Linked DNA regions of Homo sapiens. The protein of the gene in region 1 interacts with the protein of each later gene in a pairwise test. Each region holds a gene or a part of one and is shown on either strand. Other genes may lie near its edges.

Region 1 (6,956 bases):
TGGTCCCCCGGGCCAAGATGAGAAAAGGTTTGTGGGCACCTTGGTAAGATGGAAAGCGTTTGGACATGGTATTGATTCCCAAAGACACTGCCATTCAGTGGGCGCTCGTGAACAATCCACCATCTGCCTGGTTTCCCTGCGGGGCCCAGCAAGCCTCCCAGCAACAATCTTGGGGATGAATCCTCCTTCTCCAGAGGACGTGCCTGGTTCCACGCACACAGGTGCACGACACACACACAACCTTCCTTTGAGCACTCGTCGGCGTTACAACTTGGGTCCTGATCCCGTGCACTAACATAAAACTCACTCCCAAAGAACCCTAGAAGGCTTCACTTCCTTCCCTAACATTTGAGGGCTGTCAGCCCTTATGTTACTGCTGTCCTATTAAATACCTTCATTTCCCCATGGAAGCTTCTTCAGAAGTCACACTTCAAAAACTAGAGGAGACCTACTATATATATATATATTTTTTTCTCAACTAAAGTAAAACTGATGGCTCCACACACACATGTCTGTTGAAAGAACTAACAGTGTAGAAACAGGGTAGGTGGGAAATTTTCATCTCACTGTTGGCTGACCTGGGTTACCTCTAGACTAACAGTCCAGGCTGGCCCCAGGCTAACCAACCTGGGCTACCTCTAGACTAGCAGTCCAGACTAGTCCCAGACTAACCAATCTGGGCTACCTCTAGACTAACAGTCCAGGCTAGTCCCAGACTAACCAACCTGGGCTACCTCTAGACTAACAGTCCAGACTAGTCCCAGACTAACCAACCTAACCAACCTGGGCTACCTCTAGACTAACAGTCCAGGCTAGTACCAGACTAAACAACCTGGGCTACCTCTAGACTAGCAGTCCAGGCTAGTCTAAGACTAACCAACATGGGCTAGCCCCAGACTAACCAACCTGGGCTAGCCCTAGACTACCTCTAGACTAGCAGTCCTCTAGGCTACCTCTAGACTAGCAGTCCAGGCTAGTCCCAGACTAACCAACCTGGGCTAGCTCCAGACTAAACAACCTGGGCTAGCTCCAGACTAACAAACCTGGGCTAGCCCCAGACTAACCAACCTGGGCTACTAGCCTCAGACTAACCAACCTGGGCTAGCTCCAGACTAACCAACCTGGGCTAGCTCCGATTAACCAACCTGGGCTAGCCCTAGACTAACCAGCCTACGCTAGCCCTAGACTAACCAACCTGGGCTAGCTCCAGACTAACAAACCTAGGCTACTAGCCCCAGACTAACCAGCCTATGCTAGCCCTAGACTAACCAACTTGGGCTAGCTCCAGACTAACCAACCTAGGCTACTAGCCCCAGACTAATCAACCTGTGCTAGCTCCAAACTAACTAACCTGGGCTAGCCCTAGACTAACTAGCCTACACTAGCCCTAGACTAACCAACCTGGGCTAGCCCCAGACTAACCAACCTGGGCTACTAGCCCCAGACTAACCAACCTGGGCTAGCTCCAGACTAACCAACCTGGGCTAGCCCCAGACTAACCAGCCTACGCTAGCCCTAGACTAACCAACCTGGGCTAGCTCCAGGCTAACCAACCTGGGCTACTAGCCCCAGACTAACCAACCTGCGCTAGCTCCAAACTAACCAACCTGGGCTAGCCTTAGACTAACTAGCCTACACTAGCCCTAGACTAACCAACCTGGGCTAGCCCCAGACTAACCAACCTGGGCTAGCCCCAGACTAACCAACCTGGGCTAGCTCTAGACTAACCAACCTGGGCTAGCCCCAGACTAACCAACCGGGGCTAGCTCGAGACTAACCCACCCAGGCTAACCCTAGACTAGCAACTGGGCCTCCTCCGGCCCCTGCTCTGGGCTCCGCCTGTGAAGCTGGGTCCTGGGTTGCCAGCTGCTGGCCCAGGAAGATTCCCTGGAAGATTACCTTGCTTTGGGAGGGGGTGGAAACACCAGGGGACCCCAGTGACACTGGAGTCGAAACAGCATCCATTGTCAAAACACTGGTCACTGGTGATTCCAGGGAAGCCGCAGTTCGTCCTGTTATGGGGGCTCAGCCTGGAGCACTGGCAGGGGGCTGTGGAAAGACCCTCAGTCGGCCCCACCCTGGTACCCCAGACCACACTGCTCCTTCTCTCAGAGGTTCTAGGGGATGCCTCTACTGTCTTGTTGCCACATAGAGAAACACAAAGTCTTATCTTGCCCATATTTAAGCAATGCGGTTTCCTCCTGAGAAGCCGATAGGGCTTTGCTGAAATTGTTATATTAGTTTAAAAGGAAAAAAAAAAAAAAGCCAGGCATGGTGGCTCATACCTATAATCCCAGCACTTTAGGAAGCCGAGGCGGGCAGATTGCTTGAGCTCAGGAGTTCAAGACCATCCTGGGCAACATGTCGAAACCCCATCTCTACAAACAATACAAAAAAAAAAATTGGCCGGGCATGATGGTCCACAACTGTGGTTTCAGCTACTCAGGCGGCTGAGGTGGGAGGATCACTTGAGCCTGGGAGGCAGAGGTTGCAGTGAGCCAAGATCACACCACTGCACTCCTGCCTGGGCGGCAAAGCCAGATCCTGTCTCGGAAAAAAACAAAAACAAAACCCTCCTAGAGGAGGGTGAACAGATGGACCCAAGGCCAAGATCCAGGCGAGAGGTGAGTGCTCTGGGACTCCAAGGACCCTTGGTGGGAATGCCCTCCTGGCCCGACACGGGGCCCGCTGACACCTGCCGTCACTCAGCCTTTCCCTAGGAGGGAGGCCCTTCTTGGAGCCACCCTCCTGAGCAGTGGCAAATCCCATGTGAACAACACACATTGCCAGATGCCTTTATAGCCATTCCCCCTCTCAAGTTAATTTATGGTTGTGCTTTTTTTTTTTCTTTAAGAGAAATAAAGAAAGCACATAAAAAGACCCTCTCCTTCACTTACAGGGTTTCTCACTCCCCGCCAGGGCACATAGCCCCAGGACGAGGAGCGCTGCCAGGAGCTGGGCGTCTCGCCGTCCCATGTCTAGCTCAGCTGCACCCCAGGGTGGCTTGCAGAATGCATGGTGTCCACTGCCGGGTATGTTTTATAATCTCCCCTCTGTTTGTCCAACAAGCAGAGATAACCTTTCTTCTCTGCCCCGTGGCCCCAGCCCTTCCACCGTGGAGGCGAAGAGGAGGCAAGAGGCAGCTGTGCCCTGTGCAGGCGAGGCTTCCGGGCCAGGGTGACTCTCTCCCTGCTCGGTGATACCTCTTCCTGCCCTGGACAGAGAGTTGGGTCATGCCAGGCTGCCAGCGTGGAAAACCGGCCACGTGCAGGTCTGGGGCTGGGCACACACAGGGTCACACCCAGGAAGGGATAAGCTATGCATTTCTATTGATAGAGTGGGCAGGGACCACAGGAATTTAGAAAATATTAGGGCCAAGTTTACTGGGGAAAATGTACAGGCCAGCAGATAGCATGGAAAAGTCCCCTCCCTGAGGAAGGGAAGCATCTCAGAGGAGGTAAGAGACTGCTCCCAGGGCTGTGGTTAGAGCCTCCCCAACCGCAGCACGATGCCCTTTGTCCCATCTTCAGCAGGAGGGGCTGCTCTCCATGGAGATGAGGCTGACAGGGTCAGCGGAGTAGCCTGTGACAGGCAGGTTTTAATAAGTTCATTTTCAGCCAACCCCTGAAATGGGTTATTTTTGTTCCATGGGAATGCTCTACATCTTCTGAAAGATGGCACCTGGGACCCAGCCCATGGCCTTCCTGGGGTAGGATGTGCTGGAGAAGGATTCTGTGGACCTGACAGAGAAGACAGAAGCCAGAGAGTAGACACCCGGAAAGAAAGAGGGAAAAGTGTGGTGGGAAGGACAGAGGGGACCCGAAGTTCCCCACGCCAGGGAAATGACAGGGGGTTGCCAGTCTGTTTCTGATGGTTGAGCAGTCAGGGGCCCAGAGACGCAGGAAACCCAAAATCCTTGGTCCACCACGGGGCTGTCCTCAGGGTCTGGAGAGCAGGCCCCATACTCCAGGCCCCCATCCTCCAGGCCCTCGTCCCCCAGGCTCCATCCTCCAGGCCCCCATTCTCCAGGGCTCCATCCTCTAGGCCCCTGTCCTCCAGGCCCCCATCCTCTAGGCCCTCATCCTCCAGGCTCCATCCTCCAGGCTCCATCCTCCAGGTTTCATCCTTCAGGCCATCATCCTCCAGGCCCCCGTCCTCCAGGCCCCCATCCTCCAGGCCCCATCCTCCAGGCCCCCATCTTTCAGGCCCCTGTCCTCCAGGCTCTTGTCCTCCAGGCCCTCATCCTCCAGGCCCCTGCTCCTCCAGACCCTCATCCTCCAGACCCTCATCCTCCAGGCCCCCATCTTTCAGGCCCCTGTCCTCCAGGCCCTCTTCCTCCAGACCCTCGTCCTCCAGGCCCCTGTTCCTCCAGACCCTCGTCCTCCAGACCCTCATTCTCCAGGCCCCCGTCCTCCAGGCTCCATCCTCCAGGGCTCCTCTGGGTCCGGGTCAAGTACCTCCAGGCTCTCTGCTGACTGTTCACCACTGGGCAACCACAGGGACTCGATCCATGAAAACTCTGGCAAGGTCAGTTTCCTTGTTCTACATCCCTGTCACTTTAGTCACCATCATGATATAAGTGACTGAGTCATTGTTTTCTCTCATATTCCCACCCACCTCTCCTCTCTGCTTCCTCCCCATCAACTCGACTTCCCACCGCTCACTGCAGCCCCTTCAGGATTCCTGCTGCGACCACCTGACCCATGCAAAAGAGACCACTTCTCAGCCTCTCTCACTCTCCTGGCCCTGGCGGAAGCCTGTGTTGTCATAGGCATGCTTCCCTGGAATCCTGCTCAGGCCCCCACGCAGGGACACTGAGTGCCCACAGAGTTGGGAAACCATTACACGAGATGGGACGTCTGCAATAGAGTGGCATCGCTAGTTGAAAGTGGAGCTGTTCACAACCTCCACAACTGTACTTGGTGGCCACGTCCCCATCACATGGGCTCAGACTGGGGGCTGGACATTGACTTTGAGCCCCAAGTCTTCACCCTCATGCAAAAACCATCCTCCTTGGAGATGCAGGCTGGGAAGGGCGCCATGTCCGGAGTCCCTGCCCTGCTGTCATCTGCCGACCTTTGTGCAGCCTGTCCCTTTCGTTAAGAATTTCAGCACTGAGTTCACTGTGTTCCTTGTCATGCTAAGACTTGGCCACATCCCAGCCATCTTCAACATGGCGGTCGATGTTTCATCAAAATTCACAGTCGCTCAGATTTTATTTTTCCTCATCTCTAGGAACTTCCATCTCCACTCCACTTCTGCCACTTCTGCCACCCTCCCATGACCACACTCAGAACTTGAGCTCCACCTCTGAAAGAGGGTATGCAAATGTCCTTTCTGCCCAGGATGTCCTAAGCTCCTAACATTCTCCCTTTGTCTGAATCCTAAAGCCCTCCAATCCCCTATTCCCCTGTGAGCCCCCTCCTGTCTATCCTTCCTTCCTGCTTCTCCAGCCTGATTTCCACAGTGCTCACTTCACCCACCGTCTTCCTCACTGCTGTTTCCCACTGTCTCTGTGCCTATGCCATCTGCCTAGCATGGCCGACACCTACCTTGAATTGTTGCCACTCTCAACGCATGATCTCAGCGCCATCCAGGCACTCAGGGCTGGCGCCCTCCTCTTTCTGTTTATCCTTCTCCACCCCTGCTCACTTCCATTTTGCACACTTTGGGGATGATACTTTCCATCAGTTCACATAGAAAGTCAACAAATGGGAACCACCTCAGCTATCACCCATGTGGACTTCCGCTTTTGACTATGGAGTCACTGGTACCAGGCTAGCCTCCCACCATGAGTAACTCTAAAACTACATAAGTAACAGTCTGCAGATGCTGAGCAGCAGGCAGTGCCAGACAGCGATCCCTGAGAGAAGGGAAACAATAGGGGGAGTCCCATGGCTGCCTTGGTTTCCTGGAGACGCTCTCCAGACTACAGCACAGGGAGGGGAACCCAAATAGCACTGAAGTCCCATCGGGCTGAGGAGACAGAGGTCAGAATTGGAAGCTTCTGAGGCAGGCGGGTTATCAAGGTAAGAGAAGGAAGCTCCAGAAATATAAAAGTGTGTCCTTTGAGCTTTTCATCAAATACTATGCTGTTCGTGCCCACAAGGCCAGGCTAAGTAGCCCCTGGGGACAGAACAATCACTGGGGAGGCTAAACTGAACAACTAGTGTAGGGTTCGTGGGGCTGGAAAGCATTTGAGCTCAGAGCAGCCAGAGGTGTTGACCACTTCAAGCATTCAATAAAGGCCATGCCGTAAAAAGAAGGCTGATCTTTCTAGAGGAAAGCTACTCAAAATCCATTCGAACAAAACTTTAAAACAAGTCTTGCAGGAATCAAGTTAACCTGCAAGTAAATTAACTGCTTGTATTAGTTCACTCAGGTTGCTGTAACAAAATACTACACATTGTGTAGCTTAACCAACAGAAGTGTACTTTCTCACAATTCTGGTGCCCAGAAGTCCAAGATAGGGTGTCAGCACATCTGGTTTCTACTGAGGCCTCTTTCTGCTTGCAGATGGCTTTTTTTCCCCATATCTCACATGGTCTTTCCTCTGTGCACGCACATCTCTGGCGACTCTTTTCTTATAAGGACACCAGTCAAATTGAACCAGGGCCCACCCTAAGAGCCTCATTTTAACCTGATTACCCCTTTTAAGACACTGTCTCCAAATGTAGTCACATTCTTAGGTAATGGAATTTAAGGCTTCATATATGAATTTGGGGGAAATAATTCAACCGATAACACTACCTGAGAGAGCAAAGCATTCAACACTTTACTAATGAAGACAGCAAAACCTAAATACACAACATAACATCCCTAACGTCTAACAGAAAATCAGAAGTTACTAGATGTGTGGAGAGAACTAGGAAATATGGCCCATAATCATTAGAAAAATCAGTGAACAAAAACAGACTTAGACATGGCATAAAATGTTCAAAGATTGAAAGAAAAAC
Region 2 (7,027 bases), on another chromosome or scaffold:
AAGATGTATGATTTGTCTAATATTTTCATCTTATAAAATGATAAAATGTATCATTTCGTAACAGTTTCATAACAAAACATGACTTTTGTGCTCTGTTCATGCATCTTTCTTTTTAATAGTAAGGGGAGCTCTACTAAGCAATCAGAAATTGCATCATTTGTGTCATAGCCCTCAAGTCATTTATCATATTTTTATCTTTTATATTAAAAAGGTTGCAAAATCCACATGTCAGGGGTGTTGTTTTACTTTAAAAACAAAAGATAACATGTTTAAAACATGTTAAAAAGATGTTTAAAAACATCACGACAGAGACGTAAGAGCAGCCTTTTGTTCTTCACCTTTTTCAACTTATTAAAAACACTATAAATTTCACATATGCTTATCACACTCATTTTGGAAAAGAAATTGAAAAATCTCATCCATCTGATTATCAGTGTTCAGAAACATAAGAACCACCTTCCTAATATCATAGTGAACATTTAAGCAACATAATTAAAATATAATGGCCGTTTGCTATGGATCAATGACAATCAGTTTGTACTTAGCTTTTTAACTTGATTTCAGTAAGTTGTCTCTGTGAATCTCAATCTGTAGCTTGAGGAAATATGATTATGAGCCAAGTCCAGGGGCTGGCTCTAGAACTCACTTGCAGATCTTGGAGAGAATGAGCCCTAACGATTAACGGAATAGCTCAAAGTCCCATGTATGAAAAAGTCAAAAGTGAACTTAGAAATGGCCCAGTGTTACCCCCTTTTTCTCTGCCTTTTACCTTATTTTGCCAATGGAAACCAGAAGTCTAGGGCTGACTTATCCAATGTCACATGACTAGGTGAGAGTTCAGACTCCTGGTCTCATTCTTCACACTGCCTTTAAGTATCTTTTACTCATTTCAAATATTCCATTTTATATTTTTGGTTATAAGCTTTGTAAAGCAATTTGGTATACACTATCAATCAAATTTAATTAACATGAAAAGTCCACAGAGTCTGTCTACCTTCGTATATTTTTAGTGTTTAACTTCATATGTATGTCTAACTTCATGTATTTTTAGTGTTTGAAAACAACTCCTGCAGGAAGCATTAACCCTTCTATCCCAAGAACGTGCTCTTTAAATTAGGTTTTGGTTTACTCTAAAAATTTAGTCAAATCTTAAAAAATACTAAGGAGATTTTCACCTAATATTCAAAATGTACTATAATTAAGGCTTTATCTTTATAACAAGAAGGACAATCATATACCATGTCCTTTCCTTGTTAAGGAACGGAACATAAGATCTCATCACGCTTGGTATTATATCAGTGAAAATGTTTATACACTGACAATGTGAACATTACCATTTATTTTATCATATATAAGCAAAATGATTATATTAACATAAGGAAAACACATTTTAAGATTTTTTCCCCTCTCCCAAACACATATTGTATCTCACTGTTGAAATGCTAACTTAAATACACTCAGGGTACTAAAAGATAAAAGTTAACATGACACTGGCTATCCCAGATACATATACTTTTAGAAGATTTTCCAAAGATCCTGTCCAGATCAGAGTACATTAAAGTCCAGTTAAAATATATACTGCCCCCAAAATAGTTTATGATTTAAAAAGAAAATTTTAAACTAAGTTTCATATTGCTGATGTAATAACAGAGAGAAAATCTAGATATGTAAAATTGCAGCAGTGAATTATTTACAAGCAGTAATCTTATTATTTTCTCCTATCTTGAGACACGATCCGTTAAATATAAATCATCTACATAAAACTGCTTACCTGTTATTTTGTCTCTTACAAGCTTACAGGACTCTATTTCACCAATGCTCCCAAAGAGACTCTTTAGTTCCTCCTGTGTCATGTTCTGAGGAAGGTAGTTGACTATTAAGTTGGTCTTGCTGTCTTCTGTGTTCCCAGAGTCAACTGGTGACGAACAGTTGTTGTTTATGGTGGTTGGACCATTGGCTGTGTTATTGCAAGTTGGCCCATTAGACAGTTGTGTTTCCATGGCAGCAATTACCTGCTAAAAACAGAGAAAACAAGAAATGTCAGAATTCATATTTCACAACCTATTAGAGACTCCATCCAAGAATTTAAACACTTGTCACTAAACACAAGTCGTTCTAATGAAATTACAACAATGCTTCAACAAAAAGTGTAATACCTACACTAATTTTCACTTCATATTAACCTATTCATCTTAAGGTTACAACTATATTTTCACATACATATTCCATACATGCATATAAGCACAATTTAAATCTTAAACATTTTCTAGAATCACATTCTGGGTCTATTCACATATCCTTACTCACCTGCAGTGTCCACAGATGAGAAAATCAAGTACCAAAGGGCACAGAATTGAACCCTAACTAAAAATCATACTAGAAAATAAAAGTGCTTAACATGCTACAAAAATGAACAAAAAAATGACCTACCTAACTCTGAAGAGATTTTCAGTTATCCTAAGAGGTTCAATATTCTAAAACTGACAGATAGCCATTAACTTAAAAATCAAAGAGCAAGAGTACTTTTAAAAATATAAATTTGTCAACATGTACTGTTTTGGTTACATATTGAAAACGTTTTTGATGGACAATATCTTATCTCTACCATTGGTAAGAAAAAAACAGATGCTATATTTTAGGGAGTGGAAAGGAACTAACTGTAAGGTAACTTGGGAATGAGCTATGAATACTTTGTCTAACTGGTAGAATCTAATAGGACACTCCTGTCAACCTTGGCAGCTAAAAATTACCAACAAGGTGACTGATCTACAACATCAAAATAAAATCCCCAAACACTTCGATATGGTGTTTCTCCTTGACTCTGCTTTTTAATGAGAAAAAAGAAAACCTATCCAGTCAATGAAAACAACAATGTAAATATATCAACTTTTGCAAACAGACCAGCCCAAGGAATTCTCGTCTGAGCACATAAGCCTGTTGAAAATGCAAGTAATAGGGTATCTATAAACTCCAAACACCAGATAAAGAACAGAATTGGGGAAAATGGCCTCAAACTGTTCAGGCTACTCTACAAATCACTTATTAAGCAGTATTAAATCTAGTTTCCTAAAACCAATCCTATGCAAAAGAGTCACAAACCACAGCCCCAAATTTTCCAAAATCATTTTCCACTAACTACCTATCTTTGGACAGCCAAGACTGTGGTGGAATCTAAAAATCAACGCATCACTGAAAGGATTATCCTTCATATTGCATACATCTCTCACCTCCACAAAGAACTGCTTCTCAAAACTGACAATTCTGAATTGACGGGATGCTAGTTTTAGGGAAGCTTTAACATAGAAAAGGCAAAGAACTTGAGGCAAAGAAAAAAAGCAAAGTAAAGGGAAAGAGGGTTACAAGGAAAGAGAAAAAACTGTCTTTTAAAACACATATTGCCTAAGAAAAATAAAAGGGCACATTAGCAGATAAACATATAGGAAGAAATCTCTACTGCCAGGAGATGTTTACAAAAGAAGGCAGTGTTGGACATATTGAGACTGGTCAGACTGAACAAGAATCAGTGCTGTCATGATAAAAAAACATGAGGCAAAATCCAGAATAGCTTTTGAAATATCCAACAACCTGTAACCCCTCTGTGACTTCATTTCCTTGTCAAAGAAGTGGGAATTTATTCTACAAGCTGCAAGCTGTTTCTCTACGTAAGCTAAGTTTTCTCAGGGAATACTTAAAGGGATGAAGGAAAATAAACCTTTGGAAATCTGTATTTAAAAATCTTAAATAATTCAAGATATGGGTTTTATTATAATTAGCAAATCTATTTGAATTTGAAAAGGGAAGTTTCAGATTTCCTAATTAAACATAACTGTTCTGGTTTGTAGAATATTAGCTGTGGGTCACTCTTTTCACAGCAAAAATTCTTCTGGGGTTAACCCTTGCCCAGCAGTTATGGAAACAATGAGCTACAAGATTAAAGTGGCCAAAGACACTTAAATCACTACTGAAAAGTTTGGATGGGTGTAGAAACTACAAGAGACCCGAATGGGAGATTCGGACTAAAGCTCATTGGGATAGCATTTGAAATACAAAGTGTTCATTGACTGAAATCAGCAAGATTTAGAAAGGACAACAAACACTCCTCACTTAATTGCACATTTATTTCCATGTTCAGGTGGCAAGAATGAGCTCCTAAGCCAACATTCAAGTGAACAGCTGCAGTAGGCTGTGTGCGCTGAAAATTACAGCATCTCTCTGCTATAGGACCATCTGCTCAGAATAAAATGATACTAATGTGCTATATTTTACAAATAATGCATATTCCATTGATAGGCTCAACACAACTGTTCACAGAATGCAAACTCTTTCAACAGTTACTGGGCAAATAATTTTCAGCCAGATTTACAATTTCAACTTTTTTTTTGGAGCATAAAGAATTGTAAATAACTTCAAAATTTAGTAACCAAAAAAATACATAGTAAACAGAATGTATAGAATTACGGTAACTTAGTATTCAGACCATACCAAAACTTTTTTTGTTTTTTTAAAAAAGCTTGTCACTCTTTTGAGTCTGCGCTAAATCCTAATTTAGATTGTAAAAAAATTACATACGAGAGCATGGTTCTGATGCTACATACACCACTACAGTTAAAATTGCAATGTGCTTTAAGTCCTAATGATGGCCATACCACAATAGGTTAAATGTAAGAATAATTAGTATGCCAAATGAAAGATTCAAGTGTTTGGTATGGCCTCAGCACTCCTCCAACATGCTAAAAAAAAGTAGCCTACAGAATTTAAGAAAAATCCCACAGACCCCGGTCCAAGGCTCTGCTGCCCACGAACCACTTCTAAGCAGAGAAGCCACATCACACAGTCTGACTGCCATGTTAGTTTGGAGTTGCCGTCTGCAATATGGACACAAAAAGTACCGTATGTTAGATGAGCAAGATAATGCAACAAATCAGTTTGTACAAAATTTACAGTGATTGTATTGATATTCCCAGCACGTCCATGCAGTGTGGCTTAATTGAAATTGAGGCAATTCCAATCTAATCTTTCCAAATTCATTTCAACATGTAGTTTTCTTGCACAAATATAAGCATTTTTAATTAAGAGCCTGATTTTAAAACAGTATTAACTAGTTATCTTGGCATCTATTCTGAAGAACTAATGTAAACCACACCTCAAAAATTTAAAAAATAAAGTAAAATAAAGCAAAATACTGCAGGCTGTCTTATCTCTTAAGGATGTGGGAGAAGGGAGGAAATGTGAATGAAATTTTATAGTGGGAAAAAGTCATCATGCAATTCCTAAGTGATTGGTTTGCATAAAAGCACTCTTTCCCCAAAATATCAGAAAGACATTAAGAGAAGCTATATTTGCCCACACTGTTACATTATACTATAAATGATCCTTAATCCTGGGACTTAAAATTAAAAGTGAATCGAAACCCTGTGAGGTTATTTTGCCACTACAGTCAAACGGTTTCTAACAGTTTCAATGAGAATTGCTCACATATACTAAGAGGCAGTAAACCAGCATCTTTCAATTGAAATAATTGGACCGATAAATAGGATTGTTTGGAGTAATGCTCGCATAGGATGTCAGCTTTGTCCCTGAACGAAATCAAGTGAACATTTTTTAATATGTAAATTGTAAACCCAGCACGATTTGAAATTAGTGCTGCTATGAGGCCTCCAATATAGTTAATGGGCCATTTACCACTTATTGAAACTTGCCCAAATACCAAACAGAGCCATGATATTGGCACAAAAGCCAAAGTTTACTTTTTTTGCCATATATGCAGATGCTTCAAATGGTCAATATAATCAGAAAACTTAGTTTCTAAAAATAGACAGTGAATAACAGAAGAGGTCCAAAAATGTCTTTTACTTATTGATAATTATAAAAATTTTATCCTGAGAGGCAATCCTGGCTGTGATTTACTCTTGATATTAGCAATGCCGCCAGTAACGATGGATTCCACTTTCTGGCATCTATCAAAAAGGATTAACATACTTTTTTACAGGAAGCCATGAAAATATTTTACTCTTCTTCCGTTCTCCCACTGTAACAAGAGATTTTGGTCTGACCCTATGTTATTTTTCAAAAAACTACTTATAGTTTAACTGAACCTGTGAAAAAGTGCTTTACACCCATGAAAGATTTTTCATAAGAACCCAACTGTAGTTAAGACTACATGAGCAGGACCACACCCAGCAGGGTAAAGCAGGCATAAATGTATGTCCTGAATACCTTCAGGAGTTCAATCTAAACATTGCTCACTACATAAAACAGATTTTAATTTAACTGCCTCAGTCCCTTCTATTTCATAGGAGGTGGACACTAATGAGCTAATCTATTGACACCCCTCTTTCTGAAAGCCCCAGGGAGGTGAACAATCACTTTATTGCACCAACTAGATAGGAAGGCTGTGTATGGAAAATGATTCTACTGCACTTTTACATTTCAAGCACCCCAGACAGTCTTCTCCGCTTGAGGCAGACACATACCTTTATGGGAAGTTATAAATAAGTTGCTCACATGGCCCTTACCTTTATGCTGGCCAACAATTCAGTTACTAAAAATGTAAAGCTACTTCCCCTTCACTTAAGGACAGGCAATTCTGCTCTACTCAATCTACCACAGACAACTGGGCTGTGTACTATTTATAGATTCCACTGGCTCTGAAACTCTTCGGAAAGAAAAAAAAGGCCATATTCCAGTGAAACAGAGCCATTAATTTTAAGGCTTAAAAAAATAATGTTTCAATATATATTCTCCTCTTAATTTAGACATCACTTGTGCCAATTCAGACTGCTTTTCCTCCTGTTATTATCCAAGTAATAATTTACGAAAAGGCACTTTAGCATAGATGAATCTAGAATATTCTAAACTTTCACTGGGCTCCAAGGTAAAATGGCTGTTACTATGGTGAAAGCGTAGGTTTTATTGGGAAATAGAAGATTGTCTCTACTTTTATACACACAGGTACTTCCAAAAAGCCATAAAGACTTCTAAACTTTTTATTTAAATAATCCTTTATGAATTTTAACATCTACTGTTT
Region 3 (7,027 bases), on another chromosome or scaffold:
AAAACAAAAATAAAAAAAAGAAAAAGAGAAAAGAGAAAAGCAAGGTGGTTAGCCCTCCCTCCTGAAAAAAACCTTACAATGGTAGTGCTGGAAAAGGAAGTTGCCCTTGATTAAAAAGGTAACAAAATTCCCACATTGTACAAATCGGTTCCAGTATAGCAAGAGGTGAGGGCTAGGGCAGAGGAGCAAACTATGTACAAGGACCCATTGAAAACGCAGTAGTAGGACTTTGGCACTATGAACAATTCCCACCGGTCCTCTGGGAGGTGCGTCTGAGAGTCGCTGGACTTCCCGCACCCTCCAGGCACACGCGAGCTAAGTAGTTCCACTTGGAGTCACTGGCAAGGGTGGCCCATGGCTGGGGAGAGACCATCTCTTCTTTCTTCAAAGACGGAGCGTCCCGTTGATCAGCACAGCAGTTCTAACAGACTTCCCTAGAAGACACAAAACCACAGAGTCAAGATGTCAGGCAAATGACCATTGTTCCCTGGGGGGAAGGCATCATGGTTTGCTTCTTCCTGGCTCTCCTGGGTTGGGGTGGGGGCCTTCCAAAGTCATCCTGGGGCTTGGAAGAGAGACACATGCCCTTCATGTACGGGGCCTGTTGTAAAGAAACGAGTGTGTTTTCTGAGCACAGTCCGCCATAATAGGAAAAGCCTCCAGAATCAGGCCTTTGAAAACAGAGTGACTTTCTGGGCAAGTGAAGGTGGTGGCCTGTGATTCTTTTCATCCTTACAAGACCCTTTTATTATTCCTAGAAAGTCAACCAGTCCCAGTGGCTCCTAAAAGGCCCTGGAGTCAGACAAATCTGGATTTGGGTCCTAACTTCTCCCCTTAGTGGCTGCAGGGCTGTACCTATAGGACTTGATCACTCTAGGGCTTAGTTTTTGCTTCTGTATAACAGGGATGACACTAGCACCCACCTTAGAAAGTTGCTGCGATGATGCCATGCGTTGATGTACACAACAGTATTTGGACTAGTGCCTGGCACATGGTAAGTATTGTAGATACTTCTGCTGTTTTTATTAGATGGAGCCTTTTCCAAACGTGGTAGGATATAGAAGAGTGATAAGATGAGGCATTGTAAATGTGTTTTTATTTAATGTTTATATGAATTCTAAGAGGTGTAAATATTATTATTATTCTTATTTTACAGTTGAGGAAACTGAACATATAGGGGCCTAATAAGTTTCCCAAGATCACACAGCTAGTAAGTGGCAGAGCCAAGATTCAAACCCAGGTAATCTCTAGAGTCCGTGCACTTAATAAACAGAATTATTAAGAATCAGTAGGAAGAAATGTTTAATTCTTATACCCTTGGAAGTAATGAAAATAGTCCAAGGACCTTATTATAGGTGGAATGGTGTCCCCCCAAAAGTATATATTGAAGTCCTGATTCTCAGTACTTCAGAATGTTACCCTATTAGAAATGCCTTTAGAGAGGTAACACAGTTAAATCAAGTGAGAATGAGGCCATCAGGGTGGACTCTAATCCAACATGACTAGTGTCCTTACAGAAGGGGGAAATTTGGACACAGAGACAGATGTGCATAGAGGGAAGATGTGAAGACTCACACACAGGGAAGAGACCATGCGATGATTGAGGCAGATATTGGGCTGATGCATCCACAAGCTAAGGAATGCAAAAGACTGTCGGCAGACACCAGAAGCTGGGAGATGGGCACAGAACAGACTCCTGCACAGCCTTCAGAAGGAAGCAACCATCACAGACTCCCTGATTTTTGTCTTCTGGCCTGCAGAACTGTGAAACAATAAACTTCTATTGTTTTGAGCCATCCAGTTTGCAATACTTTGTGGTAGGTAGAGGAAATGGGGGCAGGTCTCCATCATTACTTTTGTCTCCTCCCAAGATCTAGAGATCCTGGGAAAGGGATCCAAGCAAGGCTCAGGTCTCTAGAGGACACAGCCAGTATTCCATGACAGGCTAGAAGTTTTTCAGATCTGTAGGTTCTCGGAGCCACTGGCCTTTTCTTTGCCTCCCTCCTGGTAAGGCTGTTTGGCTGAGAAAGCCCTGAGAAGGAATTTTTTTTTTTTTTTTTTTTTGTACAGGGGCCAACAGCAAGGAGAGTGGACTTCTCAGCCAGAGGCATCAGCTGATCATCGATAATGCCATTCATGCCTAACATCTGGATGTTAAACGCACCCACATTCCCTAGATGCTCCTGGGAGTAAGATTGAATATTGGAGTTAAGAAACCAATTTATAAAAGAAAAGTCTGCAGATAAAACCAGATTCCAGGGGTGACCTTAGAATCTGGACTACCTAAAAGTCATCCAGCCAGAGTCACCAAGTTGTAAACACTGCAGGGATCCTTATAGGTGATGTTGTCAAGATCACTCATTTCACCAGGAAAAAAAAAAAAAAAAGGAAGCTCAGGAGGAAAAGTGCTTTCTCTTAGGCCAGGACCTGCTCAGTGGCATGGTCAAAAACAAGAATGATCATGACTCTCCCTCCAACAGTGAGAGTAGCTAGTTTCTCACACCAGGCCCCATGCTAAGTGGTAATACGGCTCATCTCATCTACTCCTTACAGTGACTGGCAGGTGATTGGCAGACCCACTTCATAGCGAAGAAATGGAGGCTTAGAGAGATTAAATGTTGTGCTTAACATTAGGTAACCAGTGAGTGGTGAAGCCCGACTCCACCTTGGCCAGTCCAACTTCAGAGCCTCCTGATTCTTAATTGCTCCTCCCTGTACCTATTTTGGGTCCAGGTCATGCACAGCCTCTCCATGCACAGAGCTAGGTAGCAATTGAAGAGAGCATGGTGGCTTCAAAGGTAGGGGGCTGGGGCACCCAGTGAGGACCACGAGCCTTATTGCTGATCCCAGGCAGAGCCACATGCACTCCCTGGGTTGGCACAGTAGCCCACGGCCAGCCTCTGCCGGTGCTTTCCAAGAAACAGGGTTTTCCCCAGCAAATGGGGACTTCCACCACCTTTGGGAGGGAGGCTGCCACTGATTGGATGTCCCCCTGAACACTTCCAGATCCTAGGAGACAAGGCCCAAGGCGGGAAGACAGCTACCGATGTTCTTTCTCCCAACCCGGCTAAAGAACGTTGGGTCAGCACAGGACTGCAGGATGGGGTGGAAAGAGCTGTGGAGTTGGAGAAAGCTGGGATCCAGGATCTGCCACTTCCTGGCTACGTGCTGAGGTTGGTTACTTAACCTCCCAGAGTCTCACTTCCATTGCACAGAGCCCACGGGCTGCTGGCAGGGTTACAGACAGGGTGCAAAGCAAGCAGGCTGACCCCCCCATCCGCTCCCTGTGGAGTCTGGCCCATGCAGCATACTCAACAGGCATTTGTCAATGAATGGAAAATGGAAAGTGAGCATAGTGCTGTCAGAGGAGTGGCTGTGACCCAAGGGTGGTGACAAAGTCCACATTTCAGGATTGCTGTTCTATAGAGCATTGCAGTGCTTTGGGCTGTGTGGCTCTTGCTAACTCCCCTGGGCTTCTCTCAGAGTCCTATTACCTGGTCAGAGACAGTCACCCAGCAAAGGGCCAGTGCCTCATCCTAGAGTACCTCTCAGAGCCCTGGAGGATGCTGCAAGGCCATCGGACAGGCATTTCCTTATGGCCTCTGGGACATTTCTACCACGTGATGTCCAGGCTCTCGGTGAACACGTCCCAGGACAGGAACCCACTGCCTCCCACCCTCCCTTTCTGTCTTGGGGAAAACCTGGAATGTTAAGAAGTACTAATTCTTTAGCAAAATCTGCTTCTCTGTTACTTTCCTCATTGGAGAAACAAAAACATTAGAATTGTTTTCCCATGTGACAGCTTTCTGTTTCTGTCTCTCTTTAATTTTCCCAGGAGAACTTTCTCTAGGGCCCTAGGGACTTGGGAGTGAGTAACACTGCACTCCAGGAGAAAGGAAAACAAACACTGAGAGAGTGATTGATTATCTCTCCATAACATTTTTTTTGAGAGGTGTAGCAAGGTTTATTGCTCATTTGCCGAGTGCCTGTTATCTGCTAAACATTTTGTTCCATTGTCATCTGGCTTCTATTTTTGATACGGACAAACCTGTCAGTTTAACTGTAGTTTCTCTGTAGGCAACGTCTTTTCTTTCTGGTTGCATTTTTTCCCTCTTTGCCCTAGCTTTATTGACGTATAACTCGTTTGCAGAAAGCCGCACATAATGGATGTAATTTAGTGAGTTTGGGCATATGCATACACTCATGTTACTGTCACTACAATCCAGTAACAAACATAAAGTTTGCTTGTGTCTATTTTTGGGGGGGGCAGTGGGGAGGTAAGGATATAACATGAGATCTGCCCTCTGAACACATTTTGAAGTAAATATCTTCCTATTAACTACAGGCACTATGTTGTACAACATACCTCCAGAAGTTACTCATCTGTATAACTGCAACTTTACACCCATTGTATGAAAATTCCCCACATCCCCCTGCCCCATCCCCTGGTCAACATCACTCCACTGTCTATTTCTGTACTGCTCCATAATATTTCTCTCTCTCTCTTTTTTTTTTGAGACAGAGTCTTGCTCTGTCACCCAGGCTGGAGTGCAGTGGCATGATCTTGGCTCACTGCAATCCCCACCTCCTGGGCTCAAGCAATTCTCATGCCTCAGCCTCCCGAATGGCTGGAACTACAGGTGTGTGCCACCACACCCGGCTCTAATTTTTGTATTTTTAGTACAGGTGGGATTTCACTATGTTCGCCAGGCTGGTCTCGAACTCTTGGCCTCAAGTGATCCACCTGGCTTTGCCTCCCAAAATGCTGAGATTACATGCGTGAGCCACTGTGTCTGGTCTGCTTCATAATATTTCTTTTTCTTTTTTTTTTTTTCCAAGATGGAGTCTTGCTCTTGCTGCCCAGGCTGGAGTTCACTGGTGCAATCTCAGCTCACTGCAACCTCTGCCTCCCAGGTTCAAGTGATTCTCCTGCCTCAGCCTCCCAAGTAGCTGGGATTATAGGCGCTCACTACCATGCCTGGCTAATTTTTGTATTTTTAGTAGAGATGAGGTTTCACCATGTTGGCCAGGCTGGTCTTGAACTTGTGACCTCAGGTAACCCACCCGCCTTGGCCTCCCAAAGTGCTGCGATTACAGGCATGAGCCACCGTGCCTGGCCTGCCTCATAATATTTGAGTTCAAACTTTCATTTCTTTTATTGAGGGTAGGGGGCACAGTCTGATTTTTAACTAGAATTTAAAAAGGGGAAATGTGTTGGACTGGAGGAAGATTAAGCAACTTCCCAGTGGATGACAAAAACTCCGTGCCATCCCAAATTGTCTGTACACCAGGCTTGAGTCAGTTTTGGCCACATCCCGCCAAAGCTCTCCTTCCCTGCGTGGTTTGAAGGGCCTCTAGGGTTGGGGAACTTGCTGAGACCCACAGGCCAGGTATATATTCCTCAAGCTGCTTGCAGGGAGGCTCAGAGACAGTAGGAATGCCTTTCCTGCTCCTGGCCTATCAGTGCATATTGGCCAGGGGAATTTAATAGAACCAGAGCAAATGGAATTGTATTTTAAACTCACTGGGCAGATTCCCCAAAGTGCTTACATGTGTGGGTGTAGGGGTGGATTTGAATTCCAGCTCCACCACTTTTTACCTCAAAGACTTGCACGAGCTACCTTTCTGCACCGCCTTCTCATCAGCCCTAAATAAAGAAACTAACATGAAGCCCTGCCCAAGGAGAGTCTGAGCTCAGACTCGCCTAACCCTGCCCCCACCTGATGGTTTGTCTCTACCTGCCCTGGTAGCTGAAGAAAAAAGACATAATCTTTTGGAAGTTCTGTGGTCCTGTCCATTGCCTAAGAAACCCGAGTACTCATCCTGGCCAATGTAGGGCAGAATTATATCCCCTTCTACTACTGCAGCTGGCGCTTTCCTGAAAGCACCACCTCCCGGCTGGAGGCCAACCAACTCAAGCCATTACAGCAACTCATAACAGAACAACCTTGCTTCAAAGGAGCAAACAACAGCTAATGCCACTGCCTGCAACATCCTGGCTAACCAGAGGTCCTGAGTCTGTCCATGTGGCAATTTTACTGCTGGTGTAACCAGCATTTGAGAAAACCACTGCACTAAACAAAACTACAACCAAGGACTCCCAGAGTCCACTTCACTCCCATGCCACCTCCACTGGAGCAGGTGCTGGTATCCAAGACTGGGAGACCTGAAGATGGATCATATCACAGGACTCTTTACAGACATTCCCCAGCACCAGCCTGGAGCCCAGCAGCCCCACTGGGTGGCTAGACCCAGAAGGGCAATAATTACCACTGCAGTCTGGCTCTCAGGAAGCCCCATCCCTAGAGAAAGGGGGAGAGCAACACATCAAGGGATCACCCCATGGGACAAAAGAACCTGAACAGCAGCCCTTGAGTTCCAGATGTTTCCACTGAAACAGTCTACCTAAATGAGAAGGAAACAGAAAAGTAATTCTGGTAATATGATAAAACAAGGTTCTAAAACACTCCCATAAGATCACACTGGCTCTCTAGCAACGGACTCAAACCAAGATGAAATCTGAATTGCCAGAAAAAGAATTCAGAAGGTTCATTATTCAGCTACTCAAGGAGGCACCAGGAAAAGGTGAAAACCAATTTAAAGACATTGAAACAACAATACAGGATATGGATGAAGTCTCTAGAGAAACAGATATCATAAAGAAAAGACAGTCACAACTTCTGGAAATGAAAGACACATTTAGAGAAATGCAAAATACACTGGAAAGTTTTAACAACAGGATCAAACAAGTAGAAGAAATAGCTTTAGAGCTTGAAGACAAGGCTTTTGAATTAACCCAACTTGACAGAGACAAAAACTAATTAAAAAAAATGAACAAAGCCTCCAAGAAATTTGGGATTACGTGAAATGACCAAACATGAGAATAATGGTGCTTCTGAGGAAGAAGAGAAATCTTAAAGTCTAGAAAATTTATTTGAGGGAATAATCAAGGAAAACTTCCCTGGTCTTGCTAGAGATCTAGATATCCAAATACAAAAAGCTCAAAGAACACCCAGGAAATTGATCA
Region 4 (7,027 bases), on another chromosome or scaffold:
TCCCGGCACTTTGGGAGGTGGATCACCTGACGTCGGGAGTTCGAGACCAGCCGGGCCAACATGACGAAACCCTGTCTCTACTAAAAATACAAAATGAGCCGAGCATGGTGGCACATGCCTGTATTCCCAGCTATTCGGGAGGCTGAGGCAGGAGAATCGCCTGAACCTGGGAGGCAGAGGCTGCAGTGAGCCGAGATTGGGCCATTGCACTGCAGTCTGGGCAACAAGGGTGAGACTCCGTCTCAAAAGAAAAAAAAAAATCTACATAGTTTTTTCTACATGCTTAGAGCAGCATTAAATGCTTCCAAAACAATTAAGAAAATAACTTTGCCTAATATTTTCTTGAGCTTTATAGTAATATAAGGGTTAATGTTTTACCTTTATTCAAAATTCAAGAAACAAATGGCTCCCTGATCTTACCAGTCTCACAGTAGGGTTCACCATCCTCCAAGTGAAAAACATTGTTCCGAATGGGCTTTCCACAGGCTACACACACAAAACAGGAAACATGCCAAGTTTGTTTCAACGCACTGATGACTTCCTGTTACAGAAAGGTAATTGGATGTAAAAAAAGAAGATGACAATAAATACATAAATGTTTATTCTAATATCTGTACCAGTAAATCCCTGTAGAGCTAATCCAAAGTAGGCACACATACTTCATTTTTGTCTTGAGCTTTCCCTCAAAGTAACAAGAGATACTTAAGAACAGACTCACAAATCATCTAAACGGATGCATATTTAGACGTGTGTTCTTTACAAATGCCAATCAATAAACTTAAAGAATGATCACTATGTTATTTATACATTATATGTACAGTGAATAAAGTAAGCATTTCATAAATGCTTGCTACAAAACTTTCTGCTTCTTCTCAAAGGGTGTCAGGAAACATTAACTTACCAAGGTTTTATGGTATTATCTGCAAAAGTTCTGGGGGAAGGAGGAAGCATTTAAAAATTAAAACAAACCTATACTTTGGTGCATTTTAGAAGCAATAATATAATATATATAATTTAATAACAAAACATAATGGGGCCGGGCGCAGTGGCTCACACCTGTAATCCCAGCACTTTGGGAGGCCGAGGCGGGCGGATCACGAGTTCAGGAGATCGAGACCATCCTGGCTAACACGGTGAAACCCCGTCTCTACTGAAAATACAAAAAATTAGCTGGGCGTGGTGGTGGGTGCCTGTAGTCCCAGCTACTTGGGAGGCTGAGGCAGGAGAATGGCATAAACTCGTGAGGTGGAACTTGCAATGAGCCGATATCGCGCCACTGCACTCCAGCCTGGGTGACACAGCAAGACTCCGTCTCAAAAAAATAAATAAATAAATAAAAATAATAAAATATACATAATTATATATAGTTGTATATATTACATGTATATAATGTATATAAATGTATATAATGTAATAAAATATAATAAAAATATAATGTAATCCAATCAGTTTAACACGTGTTTAGGCTTTTGGAAATCAGCTAAGATGGCACTAAGCACAGACTCGAATGTGTAAAATTTGGACCATATTCTAGTCAGCAATGGCCCAATGGTTAAACATACCAAGTTATAAAGATTTGGGCCAGATATTAGTTAGTAAAAGAGGTTTTGGGTGTTGGTTTTACAAGAAATCATTTCTTTGGATTGAGAGAAAGATGGAGCCATTAAAATAATTTTGGATGAGTAGTGAATACTCTTTCTATAATATTTATCACAAAAAATCATATACATAAAGCATGATTACAATTTTGTAAACACATTACTTATAAAGAGCAAACTAGAAAAAAACACATCATAAGGTTAACAGTAATTATCTGTGATTGGTAAATATTTAGGTCATTTAAATTTATTCTTTAAATTTTTTGTGTTTTCTAATTGTGCTTGAGTGAACTATTTTCTTTTATAAAAAATATCAAAATAAAATGAAATAATATAGACTTATTAGCCATAGAAATTGTCACAGTTCACTACTGAAGGACAATGGGAAGAAACAGACATTTAGATCCAAAAAATTCACCATGAACATTTGTAGAAGATGTATATTGAATCAAACTATCTCCCAAGGCTTCCAGAATATTCTTCCCTTTCCATCCTTGAGAGAAATCTTTAACAGGTAATCAAATAACTAAAATACAATCTAGACAAGCTATTGAAGTTCTGGCCCATCTCCAAGGCAATGAGTATGAGATTTCCATTTCCCAGAACTTTATTTGGGTCTAAGACTCTAACTTCACTTTGTTTTGTTATTCTAACATTTATAGAATACCTTGATACACTAAAACAGTATTAATGAATATTCTATTAATTATTTGTTATCATTTGGGAAGGTACAGTCTGAACCATTCCACTTCTTTGTTCCCAACATATTACACAAATCAATAATCTAGAAATATTTCAGGTGACATATATATAATTTTAAGTGTCTTCAACGTTTCAGACATATTTAAGGATATCCTAAGAGATATCTTAAGACTACTCAATAATTCATACTACCTATTCTCTCAATTAACAATAATTAGAGTTTCATTATCATATTTTCACATTGAGAGTATATTAGAGTTCAGCAGGGCCATGTCCAATTTTTGTGTGAAGCCAGGTACTCTGGCTTCTTCTGAAATCAGATTCCAGCTCCTAGTCACCATAAAGTATGCCTGACCCTTACTTTATCATTGGAAACTAGGTATTCCAGAGCAAGAAATTCATGTATTCATTATTTATTATGTACTGTATCTGATTCCTAAATTACTCCTTTTTTTGCAAAAAAGGAAAAAAAATTATTTTTCCATCACATGTGCACTCTCATAAAACTGAGGTTATATTTTTAAACACTGTATGTATTCAAGAAAAATATATCATTTATAAACCTCATGTTTTATATATTTCATGAAATCAGTGTCCTGTGCTTGAACTCTGACAAGTAGGGAAATACTGCTCTTATAAAAGCTATGGAATTTAATTTAAAACAGTGAAGGTGTCAGTTCTAAGAACTCAGATGTGTGTGGTCCTATGCGACCTCTTCATTCCTGAGCAAACAGGCTCCTGTTGAGGAAGCACACCCACAGTAAATTATTTTTTCCCCACAGTGGCTAGACTTTCACCAGACAAGCCAGCACTCAGTGAGACAAAACCAAAGACAACCTAACCCCATGAGTCCGATATATTTCCACAGAGGTCTATTTAGTTTTGCTTTACAATAATAAATAGTGCCGAAAGCAGAGAGGGCATAAAGCAAGAAGAAAATAAAAAGTTAAAGTGATAGAAGACTTTCATATCAAAAAATTATTCTACTTTAAAACTCATTCAGAATAAAAACGTTTCCAATACTTACTCCAAGGATCTTCCTTTGGCATCGACCACATTCAGGGGCAAAGAATTTCTCATAGCACAGCTCACAATACAGGGCTCCTTTCTCCTCTACAAATCCAATGTAGGCCATTGTATTTTTGCAGTGAGCGCAGTTGAATTCTTCTGGGTGCCAAGATTTCCCCAGTGCCACTAAGAATGGTCCTCTGACAGAAGAAAAAGAGGCCAACTAAGTTTGAGAATAAAATTTCTAGAGTTAGCCTGGATATGGACCTCTTTTATGCAATGTCCAACCAATTAAATACTTGCTCAATTTTCCTTCTTAAGGACTGAACTCATGGGTGTTGGGTGTTGTAAATTCACAGAGGGACTCTGCATTGATGTGAAAAGAAAACGGGAGACGTGCACTTAAGGGATTCCTTCAAGAAAGGGCACTCCCCACCCTTTTTCTGCCTAAGGGAATTTGGTGATGTTTTATTGAGCTGAAATGAGGCAATCTGTCTGCATCATGGGTAGGATTGAGAATGAGGATGTTAACTGTGACTGTGACAGAACATGAGGCAACCAGAAAAAAATATATGGTTTAGGCAGAGATGAGACTTTGACACTTCTACAAAAGAAACAAACAAAAACTTCAATTTGGTAAGTCATAGTGCTAAAAATAGTAATAACTATTACCTGAGACAATTTCTCTTCCCCACAATTTCTCTTCCCCACACATTCTTTCATGTATTTATTTCTCAACTTTACTAAACACATCAAGTCCTCACCCTCCAAAATGACTACAGGAACTGTAAACTAGGTATTATCAATTGTCTGAAACTACTCAGAAAGGTTTCATTTCACTCAAATATGACTGATTTATTTCAAAAATTTAATTTTATTGTGGTAAGAACCCTTAAAATGAGATCCACTCTCTTAACAGATTTTTAAGAGTACAATGTAGTATTGTTAATTATGGGCACAATGTTGTACAGCAGATCTCTAGAACTTATTCATCTTGTATAACTGAAATTTTATACCCACTGTGCACCAACTTCCCTCTCCCCCCTCCCCAACATGACCGATTTTTAACACACATTTGTATCAAGGTAACAAATGTTTGTAAGAGATTTTTTTCCCCATTAAATACTTTATGGTCATGAACTGATAAGATGGGCTTGGTTTGCTTGGCAGGAATCCATTATGAAGCCTTATCTAGTCATGAAGCCTGCAGAGACTAACCATTCTAGCCTCTGCAACATACTTTTCAGTAGCTATATCACACTAATTTATATTCATAGAGCAGCTTTACCTCCAAGGCACTTTTACACTTATCTAATTTGTCCATGCAACATTCCTGTGAGACAGACCAGGACAGTTATTATGAATTCAGTTTAACAGATGGAGAAGCCAAGGTACAGAATGTTCAAAAGATATGACAAATATCATAAAATCACTGACCCAGCCAAGGCCAGAAGTTGAATTTCCTGATTTCTAGTATGCCGCTCTAGTCAACTGATATTCTGCCTTTGACCTCATTAACATCACTTATCATCCCTAAGCGACCACATGGTAATTGTTGGTAAGCATCAGACACCAGACTTCCAGGCAGATTATTAACAGGAGAAGTCATAGCAATGAGTATCGCAAAGTCACAGCATTTTTAAAATTCTGACAATAACATAAACCTTGCTATTCAATAACTATCTCCCACTGTAAATTCTTTGTCACCATATTGATGTTTACTCAGAATCAGCACCTAATTCTGCAAGAGTCACAAAAGGAGAAAGGCTCTTGATGAGTGATTAAAAATTTTTACGTGGGGTGTAAGAGGGTATTTTCTAGCCCTACTTTTTGTTAACTTGTTTCTTATTAATAACATGATGCCATTTTGTATAAGCTAGTACATATCATTCTCTTAAGTTTGAGATAGGCAGTTTATTATTATTATTTTTAAAACTTTAGGGTACCATAATTTTGTTATGACTAATAAGGAATGCCTTTGTTTACTAATTCCTGCCAGAAAAGAAAGGCTACAGATCACCTATTCTGTAATCGAATATATTACTTTTGGTAAGTGGTCCATCATTTTCAACTGACTTATAAAATAACAATCCTATTCAACGAGTTCCTTCATCTAATTTTCTCAGTGTATGTTTGGCAAGTAGTTTATCAGCAAAGATAAACCAGGAATCACACTGCTCAAAGCCAGACAAAGTTTGATGAGTGCCCTGTGTTTTTCCGCCAGGTGGGCAACTGGTTATACACGCATGAAAAATCTTCCAGGCTCAATTTACTGTGACCATAACACAGAGCATGGTAGAGCTTTGGGGTTTCATGCTACTCTCTGGCTGCACATTAAAACAGATTCAAAGCCATTTACTAGGGTGAGTTTTTTACTAGGGCACATCTTTAGCTCATCCATAAGGCTGGAGGACTCTTGAGGCTAGTATTCTTATTTGGCTTCTCAGTTTTCAAAGAAGTCAATCCAACTTCAAACTGCATTCTGTTAAAGCATAAGTGTTGGTATGTACCTGGAACAAAATGAAAAGCTCTGCTCCTGGAACATGTCTATCAATGCTATCAAATATTTGACAAAGTTCATCTGAGAAGAAAAAAAGACATTTAAGAATAACTGACCAAGGAAAATACATTCCATTTGCCAGATTTTCTAAAATATGTATTGAGTTCAAGTCAGATCATCAGAAAACTGGGTTCTGTGAATCACAGCATATTGGGCCTGCTGCACCCCGCAGGATTATTCCTTTTATGAACGGTGCTTGTTGTGATACATGAACCTGTACTGGTAGTTGTTACAGGACACAGCTCTATGAAATTCACCCTTGCTCTTCCTGCAAGTTGTTGCTGGAGTGTTGTTAGATCTCATCCAGCGTCACTTTCACATGGTCTCATTCAGAAAAATTCCTCCCTGATTTCTGCAGCAAGAACTATTATGCTTTTCCTCAGCAGTAGTCTTATTTTTATCTTATTGTAAATTGCAAAACTACCTTTCATTTTTGGTAGACTACTAGAAGGCCTAAAGCCAGATTTACAGTCTAACCAGAGGCAAGTGGGCAGGTCATTATTTTAGTATCGTCCAGTCTCGACGTTAGCTTCATTTTTAACGAGCCTATCGATGAATTTCATTCTTTTTCCCCTTTTGTAATTTATAAGATTATCTTATATTTCACATACCTGTAAAAGTCTTTTTACAAACTTGCTGGAATATAGTTCACTATAAATACATAAATTAAAACTACAGTCCATTAAAAGGATGACTTTAAAATATTTCATTAGTTCCTTTCAAATAGCAAAAGGAATTTTAGACAGTAAAGAAATTCCCACTGCACCTTTAAAAAACAAGCTGAAAATGACCCTTGCTCCTCTCAGATCTCCTTTCTTAAACAAGCATGCTCAGGGCAACTACTGGCCTAACTTGATACTTCTTGGCTGTCCTGAAAGAGCATCTTTCTCCATCAATGCCCTTGAAATTATGCACAGATTAAACAATAAAATTAATCTTTCACATATAGCAAAGTGTTTTCTTCTCTGTGTCAGCAAAGACTAATTTAACAAATTCATTAACACAGGATTAACACTAAAGAAGTTCTTCTTGTTCCAGGTAGGATTGGGTTTCCATTTGTGAACAGGAATGACAGGCCTAGATAACTGCAGAGTGGAATTAAGTATTCAGCTATCTCTTCTAGTATTCGATGTCCTGTGAGCCCTTACTAAGTACATGT

The links.
Region 2: the proteins of TFF2 (region 1) and ELAVL2 interact in binary tests that used the Homo sapiens proteins (3 or more experiments, as listed by UniProt).
Region 3: the proteins of TFF2 (region 1) and ZHX2 interact in binary tests that used the Homo sapiens proteins (3 or more experiments, as listed by UniProt).
Region 4: the proteins of TFF2 (region 1) and PDLIM5 interact in binary tests that used the Homo sapiens proteins (3 or more experiments, as listed by UniProt).

What each region holds. Positions count from the first base shown.
Region 1 is NC_000021.9:42,347,982-42,354,937, forward strand, and holds the start of TFF2 (trefoil factor 2 precursor), read right to left. Parts: upstream 3,014-6,956; 5' UTR 2,977-3,013; coding exon 2,898-2,976; intron 2,050-2,897; coding exon 1,900-2,049; intron 1-1,899. UniProt on the Homo sapiens protein: Inhibits gastrointestinal motility and gastric acid secretion. Could function as a structural component of gastric mucus, possibly by stabilizing glycoproteins in the mucus gel through interactions with carbohydrate side chains.
Region 2 is NC_000009.12:23,760,235-23,767,261, forward strand, and holds part of ELAVL2 (ELAV-like protein 2), read right to left. Parts: intron 4,866-7,027; coding exon of another isoform or gene 4,775-4,865; intron 2,016-4,774; coding exon of another isoform or gene 2,001-2,015; coding exon 1,772-2,000; intron 1-1,771.
Region 3 is NC_000008.11:122,966,649-122,973,675, reverse strand, and holds part of ZHX2 (zinc fingers and homeoboxes protein 2), read right to left. Parts: intron 435-7,027; coding exon of another isoform or gene 408-434; 3' UTR 1-407. UniProt on the Homo sapiens protein: Acts as a transcriptional repressor. Represses the promoter activity of the CDC25C gene stimulated by NFYA.
Region 4 is NC_000004.12:94,650,941-94,657,967, reverse strand, and holds part of PDLIM5 (PDZ and LIM domain protein 5), read right to left. Parts: intron 3,509-7,027; coding exon 3,328-3,508; intron 542-3,327; coding exon 421-541; intron 1-420. UniProt on the Homo sapiens protein: May play an important role in the heart development by scaffolding PKC to the Z-disk region. May play a role in the regulation of cardiomyocyte expansion. Isoforms lacking the LIM domains may negatively modulate the scaffolding activity of isoform 1.